Linked DNA regions of Homo sapiens. The protein of the gene in region 7 purifies or fractionates together with the protein of the main gene of each other region. This does not show direct contact. Each region holds a gene or a part of one and is shown on either strand. Other genes may lie near its edges. The genes, in order: DHCR7, PIGR, KRT81, TMOD2, AMY1C, NUP214 and PLEKHG6.

Region 1 (2,242 bases), on a different chromosome or scaffold from region 7:
AGGGCTCAGCAGTCAGCCTGGGCGGGTCACAGTTCCGATACCCTCCAGGCTGTCTGGGAGGCGGCCTGGCTGTGGGACCAGTTCTCATGTGAAGCAATGAAGCCACTCTGAGCTTGGCCCCCTGCCCTGGCATGGGCACTGGGCTGCCTGTGTGAAACTCTTGTTTCTCCAGGTGCAAGACAAACCTGGCACTCTTTCTGGCTTCTCCATTCACTTGCCGGGGGCAGGTGGCCAAGCCTGGTTTCATCTCCTTGGGGGGGAATGGAATACTCTCCACATTCAACCCAAAAACAGCCCCAGCAAAGGGCTGACATGGGAGGGAGAGGGGCAGGGTGGCGCCACGCACCCACGGGCACCCAATGCTTTGACGCCGAGACCCAAGCATCTCTCTCAGACATCCCTTCTCATACCAGAAACAGAGCCCACGTATACCAGTCAGACCTGCAGTCAGGCCCATTCACGAGTCAGGCCCATTCACCAGTCAGAAACCACACAGCCACTTATTTGAACAGGGGAAGTTTAATATAAAGATGAACTCTACTCGGAGCATAGAGTTTAAAAAGAGTTCTACACAACACCCTAGGGATGAGGAAGAATGCCTCAGGGAAGAAAGCACAGAAAAGGAGGTGCCCTCCCGAGGCTGGGACTGAGACCTCCTCGCTGGAGAAGGTGTGGGAGGCCCCTGAGGGTGAAGTTCCCCGGGTTGCTCGAGCCAGAGTCTGCACAGTCATAGGGCAAGCAGAAAATTCTTTCGAGAGGGTGGGCGCTCACAGGGAATCGGGAAGCAGAGCCCACCTGCCTACACCTGAAAGGCCACAGCCGGTGCTGGGACCTCTCTGAGGTCTGCAGACTCCAGGCAGAGCACTCCTGGCAGCTGTGCAGCAGGAGCAGGAAGGAAACGACATGAAAGCCCCTTTCTCCCCAGTGTCCCAGTTCAACACCGTGCACGCTACCAAGGAGAAACGGCGCACGGGCCCCACCCACGACTGCAGAGCAGGCAGGGGAGGGGGATCTAGAGCTGAAAGGCAATACATGGATAACGCGCACGCCCCACTCCCACTTTTATTTAGCAAGAGTAAATGCAGCCTAATGACAGGGCGTGGGAAGACCTCCTGCTCACCAGTGTGGGCAGAGTGTAGCGTGGCCTGGGCTCCTAATACAGGTAAATTGTCTCCAAAGGACTAGTAAAGGTGACTGGGTCATCCTCCTGCCCCAGGGACACTGATTAGAGAAAATCCGTCTGTGCTGGCAATACGGCAGTGCTGGACACTCGGAATTCCCTTGAAGGCAAAAGCAAGGAACAGAGCGTGATTAGGTACTGGACACCTGCCAAGTGCTGGGCTCTCTCCAGTTTACAGATGAGGAAACTGAGGCTCCTCGAGTTGGAGCTGGGATGCCAGCCCCCATGGACCTGGCAGAACACGCTCTTGACAGCCCCACAGGGCTTCTCCCTAGGGCGTGCCCTTAGAAGATTCCAGGCAGCAGGCGGTAAGGCACTGCGGCGGTGTAGCGCTCCCAGTCCCGGCCGTACTTGCTGGCGCAGCGGTGCTCGTCCCGGAGGCAGCGGTGGGTCAGCAGGATGGCCATGTAGATGATGTAGAAGTAGGGCAGCAGGTGGCCGCCGCCACAGGCCAGGCAGTAGGCCAGGCTGCCCATCAGGTCGCCGACGTAGTTGAAGTGGCGGGCCACGCCCCAGAAGCCCGACACCAGCAGCTTGCTGTGGTGCCTCTGCCCATCGGCGGATGTGTAGGAGCACTCGATGACCTTGGGCTTCCTGCCCCAGATGAGGCAGCGCCCATCCGTGCGGCGGAACAGGTCCTTCTGGTGGTTGGCCACCCGGAAGATGTAGTAGCCCACCAGGCCCAGCAGCAGGACGCCCACGGCGTGCGGGGTGGACAGCTGCACGGGGTGGTACACCAAGTACAGACCCTGGGGGGCGAGGGGGAAGGGGTCAAGCGGTGCTTTGCCCAGGGAGAGGACAGGAGTGTGGGCTCGGGGGCCCAGCGGCCTGGGGTCAAACCCCAGCTCTGCCTCTGACACACGCCTTGCCTCCGTGTTCTCTTCTGTGAATAAAAGCACCAACCTTGAGGGCTGTTGTGGTCATTAAATGAGTAACTCTACCTGCCTTCTACCTGTCTGTGTGTGTATGTGTGTGTGTATATATACCCCCTATATATATGACATATAGCATAAACATCAAATATGTAACAGTATTAAAAATATAATCTGAATTTAATATTGT
Region 2 (3,500 bases), on a different chromosome or scaffold from region 7:
GCCTTGAATCCTTCCTTACCTGCCGGAATCCACAGATGCTCTGCTCCCATCGGCTTGATCTCTTGTATCTGCCACCGCCTTTTCCTCTGCAAAAAGCCTGGGATCCTGAATGGCTTTGTTCTCAATCTCCCGAAAACCAGAGTCTAGCACCTTCTCATCAGGAGCAGCGTCTGCCTTCGCTAGGCTGACATCGCGGGACCCTGCAGCAGGGAAGAGTGGGCCTGGGTTGTGATTTTTCTCTATGCTCTTACTCCTCGAGGTGAAGGAGTCTGGGGGAGACTTCATGAGGAATCACAGGGTCAGGGTTCGATCTCAAGGCTGTTGGGGTAGGACCCAGGATGACATTAGAAACAGCTGTGATGGCCTTCTTCAGCTGTCACAGATGATCTCTGCCCCATTACTACCAAAAGTATAGTGGGGACCTTCAAGGCTTCGTGTCATAGACCAGCTGTGCATAAAGGCTGACCCATCACTTATGCCCGGGAGATTTTCAAGGCTCTGAGACGCTGCCCCAGGCTTCCTGACTGCCCAGCTGGGTATGATAGTGCTGCCCCCTGGAGGTAGCCTGGCGATGGGCCCCTCAGTGAGTCCCATCCGCAGGGTCCAGACCCAATAGGATTTCTTGAGGGACTACAAATACCCTTATTAGGGCTAAAACATTTCATGTGAAATTTTAAAAGGGGACTTGAAATGCAAATTTACTAGATGTTTCCTAATTTTCCTGATCAGACCTTGTAAATGAAGGTATCTGGCCCTCTTTCGAGGGCGAGCTTTGGCAGGGGGAAGGGGGATGAACATATTGCATATGACAGTGATGTATGCATATTATTCTTCTATACAGAGAAGAATATTTCCAGATATAGAAGAGACTTCAATCTGGGTTGAAGTGGCAACTATGGGACTTGTCTTTTTTTTTTTTTTGAAATGGAATCTAGCTCTGTTGCCTAGGCTAGAGTGTGGTGGCACGATCTCAGTTCACTGCAACCCCTGCCTCTTGGGTTCAAGCAATTCTCATGCCTCAGCCACCCAAATAGCTGGGATTACACCACCATGCCCAGCTAATTTTTGTATTTTTAGTAGAGACGAGTTTTCTCCATGTCAGCCAGGCTGGTGTTGAACTCCTGGCCTCAAGTGATCTGCCTACCTCGGCCTCCCAAAGTGCTGGGATTACAGGTGTGAGCCACCACATTCAGCTGGGAGTTGTCTTAATGCCGAGGTTAAATAGCAAACCCACTATTTTTACTTAGTTGGTATGTTTATTTGAGATGTCCCTTTTGAAGGGCTCAACGAGGCTATATAGGACCTAAATGTCCCCTCCCTTCCCACTCTCCACTTTCAGCCTCTTACAGCCAAACATAGGGGCCAGCACTGATTGAGAAGCTCTCAGGCAGGGGCCTTCAGGAAGTCCTGCCTCTGGGTCTGAGGGGTGCAGGCCCTGTCCTTGGAGACTCACCCGCTGCCTTCCTCTCTTCAACTGCCACATAGACGGCTGCAGTCTCTCCATAGAAGTGGCCCTGCTTCACTCCACACCAGTACCAGCCCTCATCAGCCCTGGTCACCAGGTTCAGGGTCAGGGAGACAAGCCGGCTGTTCTCGTCACAGTTCACGAAGGCCTTGCTGGGGCCTTCGTCTTGGCTGGGCAGGGCCTGGCAGCCCGTGTTATTCCACTTGCACCAGTATTTCTCGTACGAGGAGAATTTGCATGGAAAGTGACAGGGGACCTTGAGAGTCTCTCCCAGCACAGCCGTGACATTCCCTGGTACCTTGAGGTTTGGTTCTCCTGGAGGAGGGAGGGAGGTAGAAATAAACACAGAAGTTGGTACTTGGAGATGCTGCAGGGAAGTGACTCTGGTGGGAATCTTTGTCCACATGTCATATACATATATATATATATTTTTGTTTTTGTTTTTGAGACAAGGTCTCTCTCTGTCACCCAGGCTGGAGGGTAGTGGTGCGATCATAGCTCACTGCAGCCTCCATCTCCTGGGCTCAAGCAATCTTCCTGTCTTGGCCTCCCAAGGTGCTGAGATTACAGGCATGCACCACCATGTTCAGTCTACATATCCTCTTTGGATAGCATTAGAAATAAGTATGTTATTCTGACTACAGAAGAAATGTAATTGTGTGCCTAGGTAATAATTATTATTGATGAGCACCATGATCAATCCAGAGTCTACCATAGACCATAGATCTTCACACATGGACTTCAGTTTGCTTTCCTCACTCTTCCTTCTCTTCTAGACTCAATACAAAGAGGTATCTGCAATCCTTGACTTCAGCTGATGCCTGCACACTGCGAAAGAAGCCCATGTTCTTGGTAGTAGGAGGTACCATGTATGGTAATTCAGAGTGTAAGGTGCGTGTTATAGGCATGAAAATGTGACCTCTGGATAGGTGGGCTCCCTCCTGAGGTCTGGCCCATCAGGGTGGAGGCGGGTGAAAAAGGAGGAAGAGTGGTTGGGGATGCTGCTGCTGGCTGGAGAGGTTTTAGAGCTTTCTCCCTCCCTGTCAACTCCTACCTTCGATAATCTTGATCTCCACGGTGGTCCTCCAGAGAGTATCGCCGTTGGTCAGACACCAGTAGAAGCCGGCGTCCCGGCTGGTGAGCTGGTTGAGGATGACAGTGAAGGTGCCGTTGCCTGGCTCCTCCAGCAGGGAGAGGCGGCCCTCGTACTGGGCCTTAACCCACCCCTCGCTGTCCACCAGCAGGGGGCAGCGGCCATTCTGGGCCCCTTCCCAGAGACACCAGTACTTGATGCTTTTGCTTTCCTTACGGTTGTAGGGGCAGAGCACGGCCACAGAGCCTCCTGCCACCCCCTTCACCACAGTGGGGCTGCGGGGAATCGTGGACTCTGGAAGCACAGACAGAGATGGGATGGGAGGATGGCCACGCAGGAAGAGCCTTGCGTGGCCTGAGAAGCCTTCTTCCCGGGGTCTCAGCCAGGATGGGGAGTGAAGTTTACACGCATCACCTTACCCTCTTCAGAAAATGAAAAGGAGCTTTCCTAATGTCACAGAGCCTGCAGCTGGAGCCATCAGGGCCAGACTCCAAGGGCTTGGAGTCTCCCCATCAGCCTGCACATGTTGTTCTTTTCCCCCATCTTATTCTGAGCAGAGAATGGAAGGAGTTGAAGGAGAGGATATCAGCTCTTCTTTGGCTTCTTACAAAGTCTCCCTCTGTGTAGGTTTTTGTCTATTTAGTACACTAACAAGTGTATTCCACAAAAGTGGCCCAATGGATTATGCCCAAATCAAGAAAATATATTTAGGATGGTATGATGTAAACTATAAAGTATGTAGCAAAGGTGAGCTTAATTGTTGGGGCCCCAAGGGGCATCTCAAAGACGATAGCCATTCTCCAGGCAGCTAAAGCTGAGATCCAGAGAGAAGCAGGTGACCAAAGATGCAGGGGATTCTGGTGAAAACCCAGAGCTGGATGTGGACATGGCATGCAGAGAATATAAGCCCCTTTAAAAAAAAAAAGTCACAAGCACAGATAC
Region 3 (4,212 bases), about 46 Mb from region 7:
ACTGACCCCCCAGCTCTCACACCCTGACCCTTTCCTGTCCCCCACAAGTGCTCCAAGAGCCCAGTGGCTGCTCCTGGTTCTTCTCCATCCCCCCTTAGACCCTGGGATTGTGTCTCTGCCTCAAGGTCAGACTCCCCAAAATGCTAGACAGACTGCACTGTCTCTCAGCAGAGACATTGTATCTGCTATGGCTCCAGGGGCCTCAGCAATAGACCACAACCTCTGGAACAGAGCAGGACACACAGAGGACAGTGCAGCCATCCCCTTGCCCAAGGTAGGTGCTGGTAGATATTCCCAAGTCATTGCCCTTTGTCAAGGCCCTGGATGCTCAATACAAAGGCCTGCATCTGGGCAGTCCTAGCCTGCTGTGGAAAGGTCATTGTGCCCCACGCTGAGGTTGAGACCCCCTGTGTGTCCCCAGGAAGAATCTGTCATTCTGAGATCCCACAGATCTGTGCTTCTCAATCCTGTGTCACTTGCCTTCTTCAGAGCCACAAACTCGTTCTCAGCTGTTGCTCTCAGAGAAACCTCCTCCTCATACCTGAGACAGAGCAGAGGGAAGAGAGGGGAGGTCAGGGCAGGGCAGGTCTCTGCAGAGCCACCATCACATCACACTTCATCACAGCCATGGGGACAGTACTAGAAACACCTCCACACAGCCCCGGCCTGGCAGCCTAGCTTAGTGCTTTCTAGTTGGATGTGGGATGTGTCTGGGATTCTCTATCCACTTTGAACTGGGGATGGAGAGTGCTCATCTGGGACCTCCCAGTCCTGTTCCCAAAGGGGCTCTGAGGTCCCCCAGGAGGCAAATAGGACTCAGCCCCCAGCCCCATCCTGGGAGTGGACAGCGTGGACTCTCAGGGCCTGTAGCCCTAGCCTCCCCTCACTGGTATCAATCCCAGCTCAGGTATGGGGCCTCCTGGACCCGCAGACCCTCAGGACTTAGAACCTAAGGCAGTGGGACACCCAGAGCCCAAGACCTGTCACTCATGAGAGACCCTGGGCTCACATCTGACAGGTGCTACAAGTATAGGGGCTGAGGGTCAGGAGAGAAGGCCTGGACCCTGCAGAGGCTTCCTCCCCACCCAGCGCAGGGGAGAGCTGCTGGGTGATGTGGTTCAGGGAGAGAAGGCTGAAGTGGGACAGAGACAGGTCATGGGAGTCACAGCCCTCCTCTTACACAGGTGTCTGGGCAAAGATTCCACAAAGGAAAAGACCCCGCCACCCTCGGTCAATCTAGTGGTCATGGCCACTCACCCTACCTGGGAGTTCTTATTGTCTAATCCAGTGTATTTAACCTAAACCCCATTCCTGTGCCCAGCATCCCTCTTGCCCGCACTCACTTCTTCTTGTAGCCCTCCAGCACCTCCTGCACGTGGTTAAGCTCTGAGGCCAGCCTCCCGCTGTCGGCCTCCACGCACTCGGCCTCCCGCCGCAGAGTCTCGATGTAGCCCTCAAACAGGGGCTCCAGGTTGCTCTGGCAACACTCGCGGTTCTGGTAGAACTGCAGCTTTGTCTCCAGCAGTTTGTTCTGCTGCTCCAGGAAGCGCACCTGCCATTCGGTGTGGGAAGGTGGGGCAGATGGTGTCTGGTGCCCCAAAGCCAGCTCTGGGGGCTCGCAGGGGAGGTGCTTTAATGGGAACCCCCAAATCTGGAGCTTATCTGAGATTGAGTAGAGGTGGGCAGTGGGAGACAGACAATTTCTGGATTTCCTGGTCATGATCTGTGTCTAGATTTCCCACTCAGGAGTGGAGCAAGGGCTGGGTGGTGTCAGTGCCTGCTCCCTGGGGAGTTGAGTGACCCCCCCCCCCCAACCCAAGCAGATGAACAGAAGTGGAGGCTCAGTCCCTCACTATGAAACTAGGTGATCAGCAACCCACACAGGCAGAGTACTCAGGTTCAGATCACAGATGAGGTTTCTGGGGATGGTGCCAGGAAGAGGGTGTCACAGGCCATCTGGAAGGGAGCTCAGCTGTCCCAGCCCTTCCCCTGTGTCATCTGGAAGTCAGTGCACCCTACTCTCTCACCCTGGGGCTGCCCAAACCCCTCTGAGTTCAGCAGCAGTGGTCACATGCCCCCCTCCCCCAACTCCCTGATGTCTAGCTTGTGCCCCAGAGCAGCCTGGCCACACTTTTCCTTCACAAGCTCCCTCTATCTGAACTGTCAGCTGAGTCTGCATCTTGAGTGCCTGTGTGTGTGTGTCTGTGCATGTGTCTGTCTGTCTGTGTGTCTGTGTGCCTCGCCCATCAGACTGGGATCTCAGGCAGGCAGAGGTCTTTGTGCCTCTGACTCCATCCTTAGTGCCCGGCCCTGGCTGTGTAGGTGGTGGGGGTTCAGGAAGGGTGTGATCCAGGACACCCACCTTGTCGATGAAGGCCGCGAACCTGCTGTTGAGGGACTTGATCTGCTCCTTCTCCTCCTGCTTCACGCACTGCGCGTTGGGGTCGATCTCCAGGTTGAGGGGCGTGAGGAGGCTCTCGTTGACCGACACGGTGGTGATGCATGGGGGACTGGGCCCGCACACGCCCCCGGAGCGGTAGCCGAAGCTGCGTCCGCAGGAGCCGGCCCGAAAGCCTCCGCACACGCTGTGGCTGCCGAAGCCCCCGGTGAGGCCGCGGTAGCAGGAGATGCCACGGTAGGGGGCGGCGGTGATGCAGCAGCGGCCGGGCCGCGGCCCGCAGGCCGAGATGCAGCTGAAGGCGCGCCCACCAAATCCTGATCCGCAGGTCATGATCCTCCTGGACGTTTGGGTTGCAGAGGACAGGATAGGGGACCTGGAGTCCTGATGGAAACTCCAATGTGCTCCTCAGGGCACCGCAGCCCTATTTATGCGCAGATTCTGAAGGGGCTTGGCTGTGAAGATGATGTTGGGGCAATTTGCGCTTTATGGGCTTGGGTGGTTAGCCGGGTCTAACGCCTCTCCAGAATGTGCTTTAATGGGGGAGTGGCCTGCACCCTCTTCTTTGTAAAAGATGTCAGTCTTGGGCTCTGGGGGAGTCAGCATGTTTCATCTTCAAAGTGTCTTGCCAGCAGGGCATTCCTTCATCTGCAGGCATTGGGGAGGGAAGGGGAAGGCAGAGGAGAGGACGAGAAGGAGGAGTAGAGCCTGGCGAGGGGAAGAGAAGGGAGGCCAGGTGCTGGGAGAAACTGGGAGGAGGAGACCTGTGTGTTAAGTGTGATGTGGGGAGAGGGGTTTCAGGAAAGGCTGAGGCATTAATAAATACCATCTCTCATTTCCATCACAGCTGTGGCTAAAGTGCTCCTGAAACACAAATCTGGATTTCCCCATCTCCAGATTTTTCAGTTGGCAGCTGAAAACCATCTCACTTTTCCTACCATGGGAACAGTCAGCAGATTATTAAATATTTGTCTTTTATCTTTTTTATGATGAAAGCTTTCAAATATTGAGGAAAATTGGAATAATACAACACACATGCATTGATGCTCCACCTGTTTACCCCGATTCAACAGTTAACATTATACCATATTTGCTTTCACAGTTGCCCAATTATTTGAGTGGCAGAAAGCATGGCATGTCACCCTTAAATACATCAGCAGGAATTTCTTAAGAATAAGGAGAGTACTATTTTCTTATTCAGGAAAATTAACAATAATTCCAAAGCACCACTTACTATTCATCTCAGATTCAATTTTCCTAACTGTCCTAAGGATTTTAAAACTACATTTTACATAATTTAATTTGTGGCTCTAGCCCTTGTATTTTCTATAAATTAGAAAGTAAATCTTGAGCTGGGATGTCCAATTTGGTAGACAATAGGCAGATGTGGCTACTTAAATTTAAGTTAGTAAAAACTAAATAAGTTAAAAATCTAGTTATTCAGTTGCACTATCCACATTTTGAGTCCTCAGCAGCTACCTGTAAGTAGTGCCTACCTTATTAGACAGTGCATATAAAGAACACTTCTTTATTATTTATTTTTATTTTATTTATTGTTTATTTTCACATAAAATTCTGTTGGACAGCACTGGGCTAGAGGCTGGATTAGGTTTAAATTAAACATTGTTGGGACAGAATACTTCATAAAATATGCTGTGTAACTCTTATTATATCACCCCAGGAAGCATAAAATGTCAGATTGGTGATGCTAAATTGAATCACAGCTGGGCGCAGTGGCTCATACCTGTAATCCCAGCACTTTGGGAGTCTGAGGGGGGTGGATCACCTGAGGTCAGGAGTTCAAGACCAGCCTC
Region 4 (3,134 bases), on a different chromosome or scaffold from region 7:
TTAGACACTGGCCCTTTATGTTTCTCAGTTGAACCTTATCAGTCTAAACTGAAATCCAAGGGTCAAAGAGTTGGGACAGAGTTCAGCAGAAGGGCAGGAAGAACAGTTTTTCCTGTTTTTCCAGGGTCAAACCTTTACAACATAACTTCATCATTTTTAGTGTTCAGTATTACAAATTATCAGAAGAGCTTTAAAGAGAATAATAATGTAAATCCAAAATTAGTGTAAAAAATTCAGGGTAAAATAGTCAACCTGTTTGGGCTTTCTGTACTCCTGTTCCCATTCATTCTAACAAATTTTTAACTATTTAGCCAAATGTGTTCATTTTTGTTTGATAACAAGTTATTTCTCTCTGTTATGGCTACTTGCAGTTGTCTTGTTTCTTCATCATAAGGGCATTTAATAGTTTTCTGCAAATGTGCTCATCTAAGAACATGATGCCAACCATTTGTTTTAAAGAAACACTGTCTAAAAATTAGCCATATAAAACCAGTCTTTACTTTTACTTTGAAAGGAAAGTTTATTATTTCCCAATGTTCTTTACATTTTCATTTGGAAATATCATTCCTGACAGAAATAGATACATTATACCTTCGAAAGCAGAAAGATCTTAATTAATTAAAACAGTTTACATTTACCTTAGCATTAGGTCTGGCTGGCTAATTTCAAAGGATTAAAAATTGCACCTATTTGGGCCAACTGGGGTCCTGAATAATTATCCAGGGTAAAAGTATAATATTTCATACTTTATACATTTTGCTTCATCACACATTTACTTTCCACACAGTGTTCAACTTCACATTTAAAAAGCAAATTAGTCTTTAATTCCCTAATGAATATAATAGTCTTGATTTGATTGAAGTTTCAAATGGAAAATAAAACTATGCGGAGTTTTCAATAACTGCTTAGCCCAATAAATGTTGCCAATAGAAGTTTAAACACTTGTTTAAACAGTTTGCAAAGTATTATTTCCTTTATTCTCTTCAAAACAACACAGACACACATAAAGTCACACATTACAGGCATCTGAACTGGTAAAATGTTACAGATTAGTGGCATGCAGGTATTTTACATTTTTAAGTGCAATGAAAAATGCTGCTTATTCATTTTGCTTGAATGGATGAAAACAACTAAAATAAATGCTTAATTAAAATATAACTATTCCATGTATATAAGGGTTTTTGTTTTTAAACCAAAGTGGCAGAGATAAGAATTTTAGGTCAGAATAACTTACTTCTTAACTGAAGATTGTCACTGGCAACATTTGGTACTAAAATAAAATTTCCTCAAAAAGCACATTTCCTATTGATCTCATTTCGTCATATGGCCGATTCCTATCTACTCACAGTTAGATTACCCACAGGAAGTTTTAAATCTTGGGCCAGCCTCTCTCAATTGCACAGTATACTTTTGATTGACTTCTCTCTTTTTCCCAGTCAATACTTACTCAGAAACACACACATACACACACACACACACATTTTAAATAAGAGCCTACAAAAAAATGCTGTGTTTACTATGCTCAGTTTCTTTCTTTGCCTTCCCTCTTCTTCCCCACTGGTTCTGAGGAGCAAGATAGTATATATTTTATTTTATTTTTTGAGATGGAGTTTCGTTCTTGTCACCCAGGCTGGAGTGCAGTGGTGTGATCTCGGCTCACTACAACCTCCACCTCCTGGGTTCAAGCGATTTTCCTGCCTCAGCCTCCCCAGTAGCTGGGATAACAGGCTCTTGCCACAGGGCCCAGCTAATTTCTGTATTTTTAGTAGAGACGGGGTTTCACCATGTTGGCCAGGCTGGTCTTGAACTCCTGACCTCAGGTGATCCACCCACCTTCACCTCCCAAAGTGCTGGGATTACAGGCATGAGCCACTGGGCCCAGCCTAAATAGTATATATTTTTAAATATCCTTTCAGAAAAGGCCGCTTATCCAGAACCATTCTGAAGACAGTAAAGAACTGCTGAAGAGGAAGAAAAAACTGGCTGTGCAATAGTCAGACCTCCTCTGAACAAAGCCTCCTGGAGAGAAACAGCTGCAGTGGAGGCATTACTCACCCATGTTCAGAGGCAACGGAAACGATTTAGAATCACAAGCTTGTCAAGTATTGGAGCTGGAAGGGACCTTAGGGAGCATTGAATCTACTCACTTCATTTTACAGATGAAATGAAGACAAGATAGATGGAGAGTCTTGCCCAAAGTCACATAGAGCTGGCATCCAAATCACTATTGTTTCTCAAAAATATCACATGGTGGCAAATGGAGCATAACTCTGTGGGGCTGGACGACAGCTAAATTCAAGCAACATTTGTTCATTAAGCACCTACTATGTACAAGGCACCTTACAAGATGGTACTGAAGATACAAAGATGGATGAGACACAGTCCTGCCTCCAAGGGCTTATGAAAGTCATTGGAGGCCATGCTTCAAAACCTTTCTTAGCAGAAATATTACTGACCAGGGCTAAGGTTGCTGGTGATAACAAGGCAGCTGCTGCCCTGGAGAGGTGATCTCACAACAGGTGGCACTTTCTCCCCTTCACTATCTATCAGAACTAATGCCTGTTACTCAGCTGCTAGGCATTAAAATTCTTGAAACCCTAAGGACACTCTTCTCTCCTAGGCCTCCAGTCAAACCTGAAGTCTTAGCCTCTCCCACCCACAGCAATGACAGGAGGGCAGTAGCGCTCCAGACCCTCCCCTCAATTCTTAGTCAACTGTTCGCTTTCTCCCTTGTGCCCAGCCTAGGCCCTCTGCAAGGACTGACAATTTCCCAAGGTACTGTCAAAGTGACCCAGGAAAATGTCCTACCATATACATCGCTGGTATCTAACTTCCACTGCCCCATCAACCACCTCTCCCACCTCTACATGGGAGCTGAAATAACTCCAGTCCCTGATGACACACCCAAGCCTCAATTACCCATACTCCAAAAGATGAGAAAGATGTAATGGTTGGTTAGAATAAAGCCGATTCAAGAGGCAGTGGAAAACAGTGATTTGATAATAAAACTGATCTCTCACATTTGTACGGCGCTTTCCAGTTTATATAGTGTTTTTATCCAGTTATCTGATTATATTCTTACCACAACTCTGTGAGGTAGTTAGTGAAGTATTATTCCCATTTTATAGCTGAAG
Region 5 (3,148 bases), on a different chromosome or scaffold from region 7:
GATTGACCATAAAAATATGTAAATAAGACAACTAAAAATAAATTTACATGCAAGGTGTGTAGGAACACTTAAATGTGTTTGTGGTAAAAGATTATAAAAAGGCATAAAAATGTAAATGTTGCCTATGGAAAAAGGATTCTTTTGAAACCTATGTAAGGGTAAAATTTGGCTTTCCTTCCCTTGTACAGATTTTTCATGTAATAGAGAAGAATAATGAAATATTTGGTTTGCCTTGTTGGTAGAATGCCAAGGAGAGAAAAGAGTAGACAGGAGACAAACTGTTTGGAAAGCTAAGTCTTACCTCTTAATGAGTAAAGATTGTTGCCTAGTTTTAAAATTTTTGAGTCATCCTTTTGCCAAAATAAATAACTTATGTGTAACCTGGAATTGTATTTCATACTATCAAGTGTCTTAAACCTCTTTTTACTAATTAGAGCTTTTATTTAAAATTAATGATATGTAACTATTACTGTATATGTAAGAAAAGAAACACACTTAGCTATTGCTTTGCGGATTTGCATTTAATTTTAAATTTTACAATTTAGATTCAGCATGAATTGCAATAAATGGATCTTCAGCAGAGTTACTAATAGAAAAATGAGCTTTGCCATCATCAGAAACGTAGATTTTAATGCCTGTGCAGTTGCCATTAATTTTATCTCCAGAAATGACATCACAGTATGTGCCAGCAGGAAGACCAGTTTGCAAAGTTAAAGAAAATGTCCTGTAAAATAAAATTTCAGATTTAACTTCAAAACAATGAAATCAAGAATACAGACTAACACAAATAAACAGCATAACTTTATGTTTTAGAACCCTAAGCAGTGAAGTCTCATTAAGAAGAAAACCCATATGCCTCCCTAGTAGGTGTAAACAGCTTTCTAGGACCAAAAGTAACCTTACAGAAAACCTACCAATTTCCTTTTCAGTAGTGAAAATATAACCGAAAAATCAAAGTTGAAGAATATCACCGAAGATTGGCGGGAGCGGTCACATTTTGATAAAGTGCTACCTTGGTAAAATCAAATTTTTTCTCAACTGAACTTAATGCCAATTACTTTAAAAATTTAAAGGGTATTATTTTTTTAACCTTCTTTTATTCTACATGAGGTCAAAAAGAATTTAGGGTGTACATAAAAACAATCTAGCATTTGTATGAGGAAGTGATAGTTTGAAATATAAAGCTTTTTCACAAAAGATTTTTTTGGTATTTTCATCCACAAAAGAAGGAAACTAAGGAAATAGACACGCATTTTTTTGGCAGGAAAGAGATCAACTTGACTTATATATTTTTGTATTTATTTATTTTTCATAAGTGAAGTATAATTTATACTAGAGTGAGCTAAGTATGAGTGTCAGTTGGCCTTGGACAGAGACAATTCAACTGTTTGCAAGGAGGTCTTCTCAGCTACAGTTTCGGGAATCATTTATACTACAGCCAAAGGATACAAAAATCACAGATGAAAGGCCAATAATGAGAAGTTTCAGAACTAAAACTCAAGTCTCCTGAAGCAAATCATTAACCACAAGATACATATTATTTATCCATATGCTTTAAAAATGTTATTTGTCACAAGGAGACAGAGAAGTGAAGAAAGTATACCAAAAAACTAGGTAGAGCTGTCATTGAGAAAAAGAGAAATAAAGATATTTTAGTACTGAGGCAGCATTTTTCCATGATTAAAAGAGCAGGACTATAAGAAACGTTCTTTTAATGATTTCACAATCCTTCTATTAATTACTTTGTGTATTTTGTGGCATGTGTAGGTAAGCATATGAATGTGCATTCTATATATGCATAAGATATTGCAAGGGTGCACAGAAAGGATTCTGCTTACAACAGAAAGCCCTTATGAAAACAGGAGAACGAAGGAGTAACAGCCATCATCCTTTTGCTTCTACCCAATTTTGATCTCTATTGTCTTCTCGCTCCACTGACTACATGATTTTTCAGATATGATAAATGTCAATGAACAGAAAAAAAAAAGAATAAACCAAGAACATACTGGTACAAAATATTATTTTTAATTGATATTTACTTACCAGTCATCATTGTTGAAAACAATGAATCCTCTGTTTCCTCTCCCAAAAGCCACTTGGTTGCTCCCATTATCATACCAGTTTGTAAAAGGCTGGCCATCCACTACATTGCGGAAATTAACCATGTTCCTAAAAACACAATACCATATAAAACGTTGATATTCTTAAACTTCAACTGTTTTAAATAAAGTGCTACGGAAATTTACTATTAGAGGACATGTCTAAATACATATTCTCACCTTATTTGGCGCCATCGATGTTCACAGACCCAGTCATTGCCACAAGTAGTGTCTGGATTAATAGTAACTTCTTTAGTTACTCCATTATCATTTGGTGGCCCAACCCAATCATTAACATCCTTAATTACAGGAGGAAAAGCCAAATTTTAGCATATATATATTTATCTCTTCCTTCTCCTTTAAACCAAACCCAACCTATCCTGTTACTTGTGTCTCTGCATTCAGTGACTTTATCTAGAATCCAATGCCTTCATTGATTTTTATAGCCCTTTACTGGGTCTTCATCATCTCTCTATCCTCTGGTTCTCTTTTGCCATATTTCAAACAAAGGTAGCAAATTGTTATCCTCTCCTTTTCATTCCAAGGCACTGCAAAGACTTCTTTGCTCTGTCACCCAGGCTGGAGTACAGTGGCATGATCGTAGCTCACTGCAGCCTTGATCTCCGAGGCTCAAGCGAACCTCCCATCTCAGCCTCCCAAGTAGCTAAGACTGTTGGTGTGCACCACCGCACCCAGCTAATTTTTTTTTTTTTTTTAATTTTCAGTAGAGGCAAGGTCTTGCTAGCTTGCCCAGATAGGTCTTGAACTCCTCAGGTCAGCTGACCTTCTCAGCTGGCCGCACACAGTGCTGGGATTATAGGTGTGAGCCACTGCACCTGGCCTGCAAGGGCTTCTTAACATCACTGTAAGCCATGCAATGGCATTGAAATGGGAAGGGCATTAGTACTAGAAACACCAGGATTAAAACATAGGCTCTATTACTAGTAGCTGAGAAAATTTAATCAATATAAATAATTTCTCTGTGTCTCAGTTTCCTCATTTGTAAAATGAGAATAATGAGTTCTTTTGCTATAAAAATTAAGTAATAT
Region 6 (3,500 bases), on a different chromosome or scaffold from region 7:
CATGTTCAGATATAGGTAATGAGAGTAGTCAATGCAACACCATTTGCAGCAGCAACGCCACTAGCACTGATGCAGACAATCATCAATAGTGGAATAAGGCTGGGCGAGGTGGCTCATGTCTGTAATCCCAGCACTTTGGAAGGCCAAGGTGGGCACACTGCTTGAGCCCAGGAGTTTGAGACCAGCCTGGGCAACATGGCAAAACCCTATCTCTACAAAAAATACAAAAATTAGCTGTGCATGGTGGCAAGTGCCTGTAGTCTCAGCTACCCGGGAGGCTGAAGTGGAAGGATCACCTGAGCCCAGGAGGCTGAGGCTGCAGTGAACCATTACGTTATCACACCATTGCACCCCAGCCTGGGCAACAGAGCAAGACCATCTCTCAAAAAAAAATAATAATAAATAAATAAAAAATTAAGGCAAACAGCAAAGCAAGAAAATTTAAAAAATTGCATTATCTTTTTACAGGTTAGTGTCCTAAAAGATTATGTACCAAATTTCAGGTAACTTTTGGTAATAACAAATAAGAAACATAACCTTAACCTTAAACCTATACCACCTACATTCACCACTCTGCTCCCCTCCTCGCCAGAGAACAGTCTTGAGGAGGAAGGCACAAGAAAGGCCTTAGCACCACCTGTGAATCCCTCCTTCGTGTCCAGGCTCAATAGACATATGGGGGTTCCTTGCAACTCAATTGATATTGAAGGATATTTGTGAACATTATTTCAAGAAATTCACAGGGAGGATGACAGAGTGCACATGCAACAAGAGTATCCATTTTCTTTGGTGCCCATAGTTAGACAAACAGACCTTTAAAGACAGACTCAGTTAAAAGACAAATACTGTGCTTTAACCCAGAGTGATTCTGCATTATCATCATAGTTTTTTCACTAACTCTTTTCCCTTGAGCTGTTTTTATGGAATGGACTGAAAAAGGTGGGGAACAGCGCATAGCGTATGATCACATTTTACATAAAAACAACAACAAAAAAAAAGCAGCTACCCATAGACTATTTGTATAACATCCAGAAAAGTATGGAAGGCTATCTACTCAACACAACATAGTGGGTGCCTCTGGAAGAAGGACTATGGGAAAGGGAAGAGTTCCACTCTTCATTCACTGATGGATTTGTTACAATGAGTATAAATTACTTTTTAATAGGAAAAACAAGAAAGATACTCCCAAACCACCCCCAAAAAAGTGGGCAACTTAAGAAAAATTCTGAAGTTCAAGATAAGAACTTACAGGAAGATACTGGACCACAGTTCCATTCTGTTTTCCCACTGCCAGCTGCTTTCCTTTGGGGCTCCAGCACACTGAGCAAAGACAGTATTACCAAATGAAAACAAGAAAATGGAGCAAACCAATAAGATCTATCACACACAGCTAATTATCAATTCTCATTCCTCTGTCAGTCCATGGAAGATTGTAGGATCATCTCTATCAGGCAAAGTGGAAAAAAGTAAAATCATTTTAACGATATAAGCCAATTGATTTATCACTGGGCTATTGAATTGAAAGCTAAAAATGCTTTTTCAATAGATTACTGCCCAGAAAGCTGCAAAATACAGAAAACTCTGTAGTCTTTACATAAGACAAGGAGAACAGAGAAGGTTTCCAAATACCAAGAAATCACTGGCCGGGCACAGTGGCTCATGCCTGTAATCCCAGCACTTTGGGAGGATGAGACGGACGGATCACTTGAGGTCAGAAGTTCAAGACCAGCCTGGCCAACATGGTGAAACCCCGTCTCTACTAAAATATACAAAAATTAGCTGGGCATGGTGGCAGGCACCTGTAATCCCAACTACTCTGGAGTCTGAGGCAAGAGAATTGCTTGAACCCAGCAGGTGGAGGTTGCAGTGAGCTGAGATCGCGCCACTGCACTCCAGCCTGGGCGACAGAGCAAGACTCTGTCTCAAAAAAAAAACAAAAAAAAAAAAACAAAACCAGAAATCATTCTCCTGCTCCCATTTAATATTTAAAATGCTTTTCCGCCCAAAGGTACAAATGACTTTCAGAGTACCACCGTTACAGATCCAGAAACAATTATTCCCAAAAAACACTTCTAAACCAGCTGTACCAAAATATTTCTCCAGAAATCCCAAGTACATTCAGGTTAAATTATGTATGCTGTTTGGCTTCAAGGACATTAACTATGGGTATAAAGAATACTCTCAGCCGGGCACAGTGCCTCACACCTGTAATCCTAGCATATGCGGGGTGGAGGAGGGCAGATCACTTGAGGTCAGGAGTTCAAGACCAGCCTGGCCAACATGGTGAAACCTTGTCTCTACAAAAAATACAAAAATTAGCTGGGCATGGTGGCGCATGTCTATAATCCCAGCTATTTGGGTGGCCGAGGCACGAGAATTGCTTGAACCCAGGAGGTGGAGGTTGCAGTGGCTGAGATGATGCCACTGTACTCCAGCCTGGGCGACACAGTGAGACTGTCTCAAAAAAGAATACCTTCCATCCTTAACCTCCCTCGTCATGAAAAAAAAAACCAAAACACAAAAAGCTATCCACTTTCACTTCTAGAAATCAATTCTTAAGTAGATGACCATGATTGTATGCTACAGTGTGAAAGCCTTTATTACTCACCAGAGGTTACTGCTACCGTGGAAGGAAGAGTTGCACATACTTTCACTGTTTCCGTGACTTGCAGGACAGCAATACTACCATCAGCCAGACAAACTGCCACCATGGAGGGGACAGTGGGGTTCCACTTCATATCAATCACCATGCCTCCTGCATCTTTCAAAAGCTTATGATAGGCAAATGGGCGTTTTTGCTGTTTAGCCTTTTAAAACAAATATGCAAAAGTGAAATAAGTTAACAAATAGTAAATGCAGAAACATTTAATATTCAATGGAAATTACTGAATACACAAGGTATCTCAAATCAGTTTATTTTTCTCCATAACCATAAAAAAAGATTGTTTTATGCATCAATCTATTTGCTATAGACAATTTCAACACAACTTTGAAAATGGCAATCAATTATTCTAACATGCTTAGGGGGACTCTCAGAAGGGGAATGCACAATTGCAAAATAACCAATAAATAGCAGACAATAGATTAAAATCTTGGCTCTGCTTCTTAATAATGTTGGGACCTTGGACAGTTACTTAAACTCTGAGCCTGTTTCTCTACCTATAAAATGAAGATAATAGTACCTACTACATAAGGCTGTGGTAGGCATGAACGAGGGACAAGGCATATAAAGCACTTAGTACAGAGTCTAACACACACAGTCAGTATAAACACTCACTATTATTATCATTCTTAAACTGCTTGGAATGGAAGAACATCCAAAATGTAGGAACTTTTGACATTATGTATTCATCTATGACTTTGGGCAAGTCACCTAAGCCTCCTGATAACAACTTAGGGCAGATGGCGTTATGAAAGAATTTCTTGAAGTCCCTTCTGTCTCAAAGATCTATGATTCTATAATTAAGGATTTTTTTTTAACCCATATTTTAATCTAGAGA
Region 7 (3,500 bases):
TTCGAAAAAGAGTCTTCGCAGATTTGCAGAGATCCTAAGAGCTCAAGATGAGTTCTCCCTGGATTTAGGGTGGGCTCGAAATCTAATACTCACATCTTTGTAAGAGAAAGGAGGGGGAAATTTGGACACAGAGACATACAGAGAGGAAGGCCATGGGAAGACAGAGAAAGAGTTTGGAATTTTGTTACCACAAGCCACGGAACGCCTGGGGCAACCAGGAGCTGGAAGAGGCAAGGATGGATTCTCCTCTAGAGCCTCCAGAGGAAACTCAGCTCTGCCAACACCTTGATTTGAAACTTCTGGCCTCCAGAACTGTGAGAGAGTAAGCTTCTGATGCATTTTAGGCCACCAAGTTTGTGGGACCTAATACAGCTCCATTTGCATCTCTCTTCTTTTGAACTCCTCCTGCTTTTTATCTGCTCACATCACTCCCCTGCCCGACTCCTTCACTGGCCCTCTGTCATCCAAAGGACAAAGCTCATCTATAGGATGCTTTATCATGACATGCAGAGATGGGCATGACCTGGTGGCACCTACCCCCTAGCCTCTCCCTGCTGCGTCTACTCTTGTACTTGATACTGTAGCAATACCAATGGGGGCAGTTCTCTCAACACACACAACTGTTTCACAGTTCCCGCCTTTGCACGTTCTGCTCCTCCATGTGGAATGCCCTTCCCTTCCACCCTGACTCCCTGACATACTCCTAGGTATCCTCCCAAATGGTGCTCAGACATCAGCTCCTCTGTGTCCCTTCCAAACAGACCCAGCAGACAATGCCTTGCTCCCTTCTCTGTCCCAGCTTCATTCTACATAACTTCTCTCTATTGTTTGTATACTAATTACTCAACCAGGCTGCAGCACCTAGGCCTTGAGGGCAGGAATGGTGGTTTACTCTTTTCTGATTCCCTAGCACCTAGCTCTAGTGCCTGCCGTACTCAGCAAGTGCCCTGTAAATGTCTGCGAATGGAAGATGACTTCTAGAAGTTAATCATTTCAGGCTGTACAAACCTTCAGGGGATGCTGTATCTTGGGCTCTCCCAGTGGCTGGCACAGTAGCTGGCCAAAGGCTTTTTCTGTCTTCTGATGGATGGTGGAGGCTCTGCCTCCCTCTCTGGGGCACATCAGATTGTCCAGTCTGAAACTGAATCCACCCCAGCCTCTCTCCTCCTCCCCTCTGCGCTCCCATGTTCATTCGTTCCTTCCTTCCTTCCTACATTCTTTTTTTTTTCCTTCTTCTTCAGGGTCTCACTCTGTCACCCAGGCTAGAGTGCAGTGGCACGATCTCAGGTCACTGCAACCTCCACTTCCCGGGCTCAAGTGATTCTCCTGCCTCAGCCTCCCAAGTAATGGGGACTACAGGCACACACCACCACGCCCGGCTAATTTTTGTATTTTTAGTAGAGACGGGGTTTCACCATGTTGGCCAGGCTGGTCTCAAACTCCTGACCTCAGGTGATCCACCTGCCTCAGCCTCCCAAAGTGCTGAGATTACAGGTGTGATCCACCACTGTGCTCCCATTTCTGAGCTCCGGGGACCCCTGCCCATGCCTCCCCGTTGCTGGCTTTCCCATACCTGGGCCTGCTGGGTCTTCTCCAGCCACTGGGCACGGTCTGTAGGACTGGGACAGTGCACAAGGAGGGCGCTGGAGACACACTGGAATTCAGTGAGGTGGATCAGCAGGAAGCTGTCTGGATGGAGGAGACAACCTTCAAGAGGCCAGCCTTTATTTGATCTCCGTCCCAGCTCCTCCTTCCCCTCGCTGAGAAGAGGGAGAAGAAAAGACTCCCTGAAGGAAGGACGTACTGGGGTCTCGCAGGGGTTGGCACACGAGCTTCTCCAGCATGAGAGGGGGTCGGATGACCTTGGCTTTGTCCGCCTTGCGCTGGGGCTTGGTCACAAGGAGCACATCAGAGAAGAGGAACAGGTACACGTCCAGCTGGGGGTGGGGGCGTAGGGGAAAGAGACAGGGTCAGCTGGAGCCAGGGGCAGGGCTGGTCCGGGAGGAGGCTCAGGCATGGTGCGCAGGCACACAGGGACACACGCAGAGCCCAAATGCGGGAGTGGCCAGGGGCGTCGCTTTGGTCACATCTCTCACTTTACAGGCAGGCAAAGTGGCTGGCTCAGGGTCACACAAATGACTGGGGCTTAGCCAGAACCACATCCTCTTCCCCAAACCCCTCTTCTCCCACTTCCGGCGTTTCTGCCTCTTACCTTCTCCCACCGTGCCCCATCCCCTCCACTCTGTCCGCAGCACCCTCACCTTCCCTTCTCGTCCCTCCTTCACTCGCACAGGCCCCTCCAGCAGCAGCTGTCTGGTGTGCTCAGATGCAACCCCCAGCATGGGGGACGTCAGGTCCAGGGTGGAGAATGGGCGCAGGTTCTGAGGGACACAGAGGGGAGGGGTCAGGGCGCTCGGCAGTCTGCCTGGACTTCCTGGCCAAGGGCGGCTCCTGGTTCTGCCACCAACACCTTTCTGTTTGTATCCTTCCCCCATGGGCTAGAGAAAGCCTCCCAGGGCCTCCTTTTTGCTCTTCTGACCTGTACCCCTTGGACTGTCACCACCAGGTAGGAATGATGGACACCCTTGTAGCACCCAAGTACGGGGTGTTCTGGCCTTGCAGCCCTCCCCTTCACCAGTATCCCTGGGACCTTGCTTTTCCTGGGTCCCTTCCCTTTGCCCTCTCACCTTCTCCACCTCATCACTGGGTGGCTCCAGCACCTCGTAGGGCCCGATGCGTTGTGCTGCAGCCGCCAAGCTCTCTTGCTCTTCGCCCTGGCGGACCTGCCCATTGATGTGTCGCAGGAATGACTCCACGGCTTCAATCTAGGTGGGGTTGGGGGTGTGGGAGGAGGGACGGCTCAGCCGTCCCCTCCCAACCAATGCCAGCCACAGCACAGCGCCACACTGTCACAGACACACTAAGAAAGAGACCCCCCTCCCAGTCCCCGATTCACCAGAGTCCCAGCCCCACTGGGGCACCTACCATGGCATTCAGGGCCTCTTGGGCTCGTGCCTCGGGGCTCCTCTTGAGCACAGCATGGAGCAGCAGTGGGTACTTGGTGATGCGCTGGTGGGGCTTGATAAGCAAGTCACAGAGCATCTGCCTCCCAGAGCGCTTGTGCTTCTCACACCACTGCAGGGAAGGTGGGTGGGGCTCAGGGTTTGCTCCCTCCTGCCCTGCCTAGTGGTGAACTCAGCCTCAGGCTCAGCTGGAGACCGGCCGGCTAAGATGCACCCGTCCCCCTCCCCAGCACCCCTTCTCCCACCTGCACGAAGGCATGGAAGAGAGGGTTAGTTTCTTGCTGTTCTCGGGCGTAAGCCATGGTCTGCTTCACTCGGAGGCAGTACTGGACATAGGGGTGGAACCGCTGGCCAAACTGGAGAGACAGATACGGGAGGTGGGGAGCAGGCATGGGGAGAAGGCCATGAATACAGGCTCTAGCTGCAGGACCCAGGAGCAGGTGAAGAGAGCCTCGCAGGGGCCCTTAGCCCAGCTCC

The links.
Region 1: the proteins of PLEKHG6 (region 7) and DHCR7 purify together in Homo sapiens (affinity purification with mass spectrometry, with the first as the bait; one large-scale study listed by BioGRID). This does not show direct contact.
Region 2: the proteins of PLEKHG6 (region 7) and PIGR purify together in Homo sapiens (affinity purification with mass spectrometry; one large-scale study listed by BioGRID and IntAct). This does not show direct contact.
Region 3: the proteins of PLEKHG6 (region 7) and KRT81 purify together in Homo sapiens (affinity purification with mass spectrometry; one large-scale study listed by BioGRID and IntAct). This does not show direct contact.
Region 4: the proteins of PLEKHG6 (region 7) and TMOD2 purify together in Homo sapiens (affinity purification with mass spectrometry; one large-scale study listed by BioGRID and IntAct). This does not show direct contact.
Region 5: the proteins of PLEKHG6 (region 7) and AMY1C purify together in Homo sapiens (affinity purification with mass spectrometry, with the first as the bait; 2 studies listed by BioGRID). This does not show direct contact.
Region 6: the proteins of PLEKHG6 (region 7) and NUP214 purify together in Homo sapiens (affinity purification with mass spectrometry; one large-scale study listed by BioGRID and IntAct). This does not show direct contact.

The regions. Positions count from the first base shown.
Region 1 is NC_000011.10:71,433,911-71,436,152, forward strand, and holds the end of DHCR7 (7-dehydrocholesterol reductase), read right to left. Parts: intron 2,064-2,242; coding exon of another isoform or gene 1,930-2,063; coding exon 1,465-1,929; 3' UTR 1,281-1,464; coding exon of another isoform or gene 1,200-1,280; 3' UTR 501-1,199; downstream 1-500. UniProt on the Homo sapiens protein: Oxidoreductase that catalyzes the last step of the cholesterol synthesis pathway, which transforms cholesta-5,7-dien-3beta-ol (7-dehydrocholesterol,7-DHC) into cholesterol by reducing the C7-C8 double bond of its sterol core.
Region 2 is NC_000001.11:206,932,967-206,936,466, forward strand, and holds part of PIGR (polymeric immunoglobulin receptor precursor), read right to left. Parts: intron 2,853-3,500; coding exon 2,520-2,852; intron 1,781-2,519; coding exon 1,454-1,780; intron 201-1,453; coding exon 20-200; intron 1-19.
Region 3 is NC_000012.12:52,288,735-52,292,946, forward strand, and holds the start of KRT81 (keratin, type II cuticular Hb1), read right to left. Parts: upstream 2,801-4,212; 5' UTR 2,732-2,800; coding exon 2,363-2,731; intron 1,553-2,362; coding exon 1,344-1,552; intron 542-1,343; coding exon 481-541; intron 1-480.
Region 4 is NC_000015.10:51,813,730-51,816,863, reverse strand, and holds the end of TMOD2 (tropomodulin-2), read right to left. Parts: 3' UTR 501-3,134; downstream 1-500. UniProt on the Homo sapiens protein: Blocks the elongation and depolymerization of the actin filaments at the pointed end. The Tmod/TM complex contributes to the formation of the short actin protofilament, which in turn defines the geometry of the membrane skeleton.
Region 5 is NC_000001.11:103,756,045-103,759,192, reverse strand, and holds the end of AMY1C (alpha-amylase 1C precursor), read right to left. Parts: intron 2,399-3,148; coding exon 2,280-2,398; intron 2,170-2,279; coding exon 2,044-2,169; intron 725-2,043; coding exon 535-724; 3' UTR 501-534; downstream 1-500. UniProt on the Homo sapiens protein: Calcium-binding enzyme that initiates starch digestion in the oral cavity.
Region 6 is NC_000009.12:131,128,586-131,132,085, reverse strand, and holds part of NUP214 (nuclear pore complex protein Nup214), read right to left. Parts: intron 2,808-3,500; coding exon 2,609-2,807; intron 1,321-2,608; coding exon 1,250-1,320; intron 1-1,249. UniProt on the Homo sapiens protein: Part of the nuclear pore complex. Has a critical role in nucleocytoplasmic transport.
Region 7 is NC_000012.12:6,317,182-6,320,681, reverse strand, and holds part of PLEKHG6 (pleckstrin homology domain-containing family G member 6), read right to left. Parts: intron 3,380-3,500; coding exon 3,269-3,379; intron 3,184-3,268; coding exon of another isoform or gene 3,136-3,183; coding exon 2,986-3,135; intron 2,826-2,985; coding exon 2,688-2,825; intron 2,382-2,687; coding exon 2,262-2,381; intron 1,938-2,261; coding exon 1,805-1,937; coding exon of another isoform or gene 1,725-1,804; exon of another isoform or gene 1,709-1,724; intron 1,690-1,708; coding exon 1,574-1,689; intron 1,112-1,573; exon of another isoform or gene 1,009-1,111; intron 1-1,008. UniProt on the Homo sapiens protein: Guanine nucleotide exchange factor activating the small GTPase RHOA, which, in turn, induces myosin filament formation. Also activates RHOG. Does not activate RAC1, or to a much lower extent than RHOA and RHOG.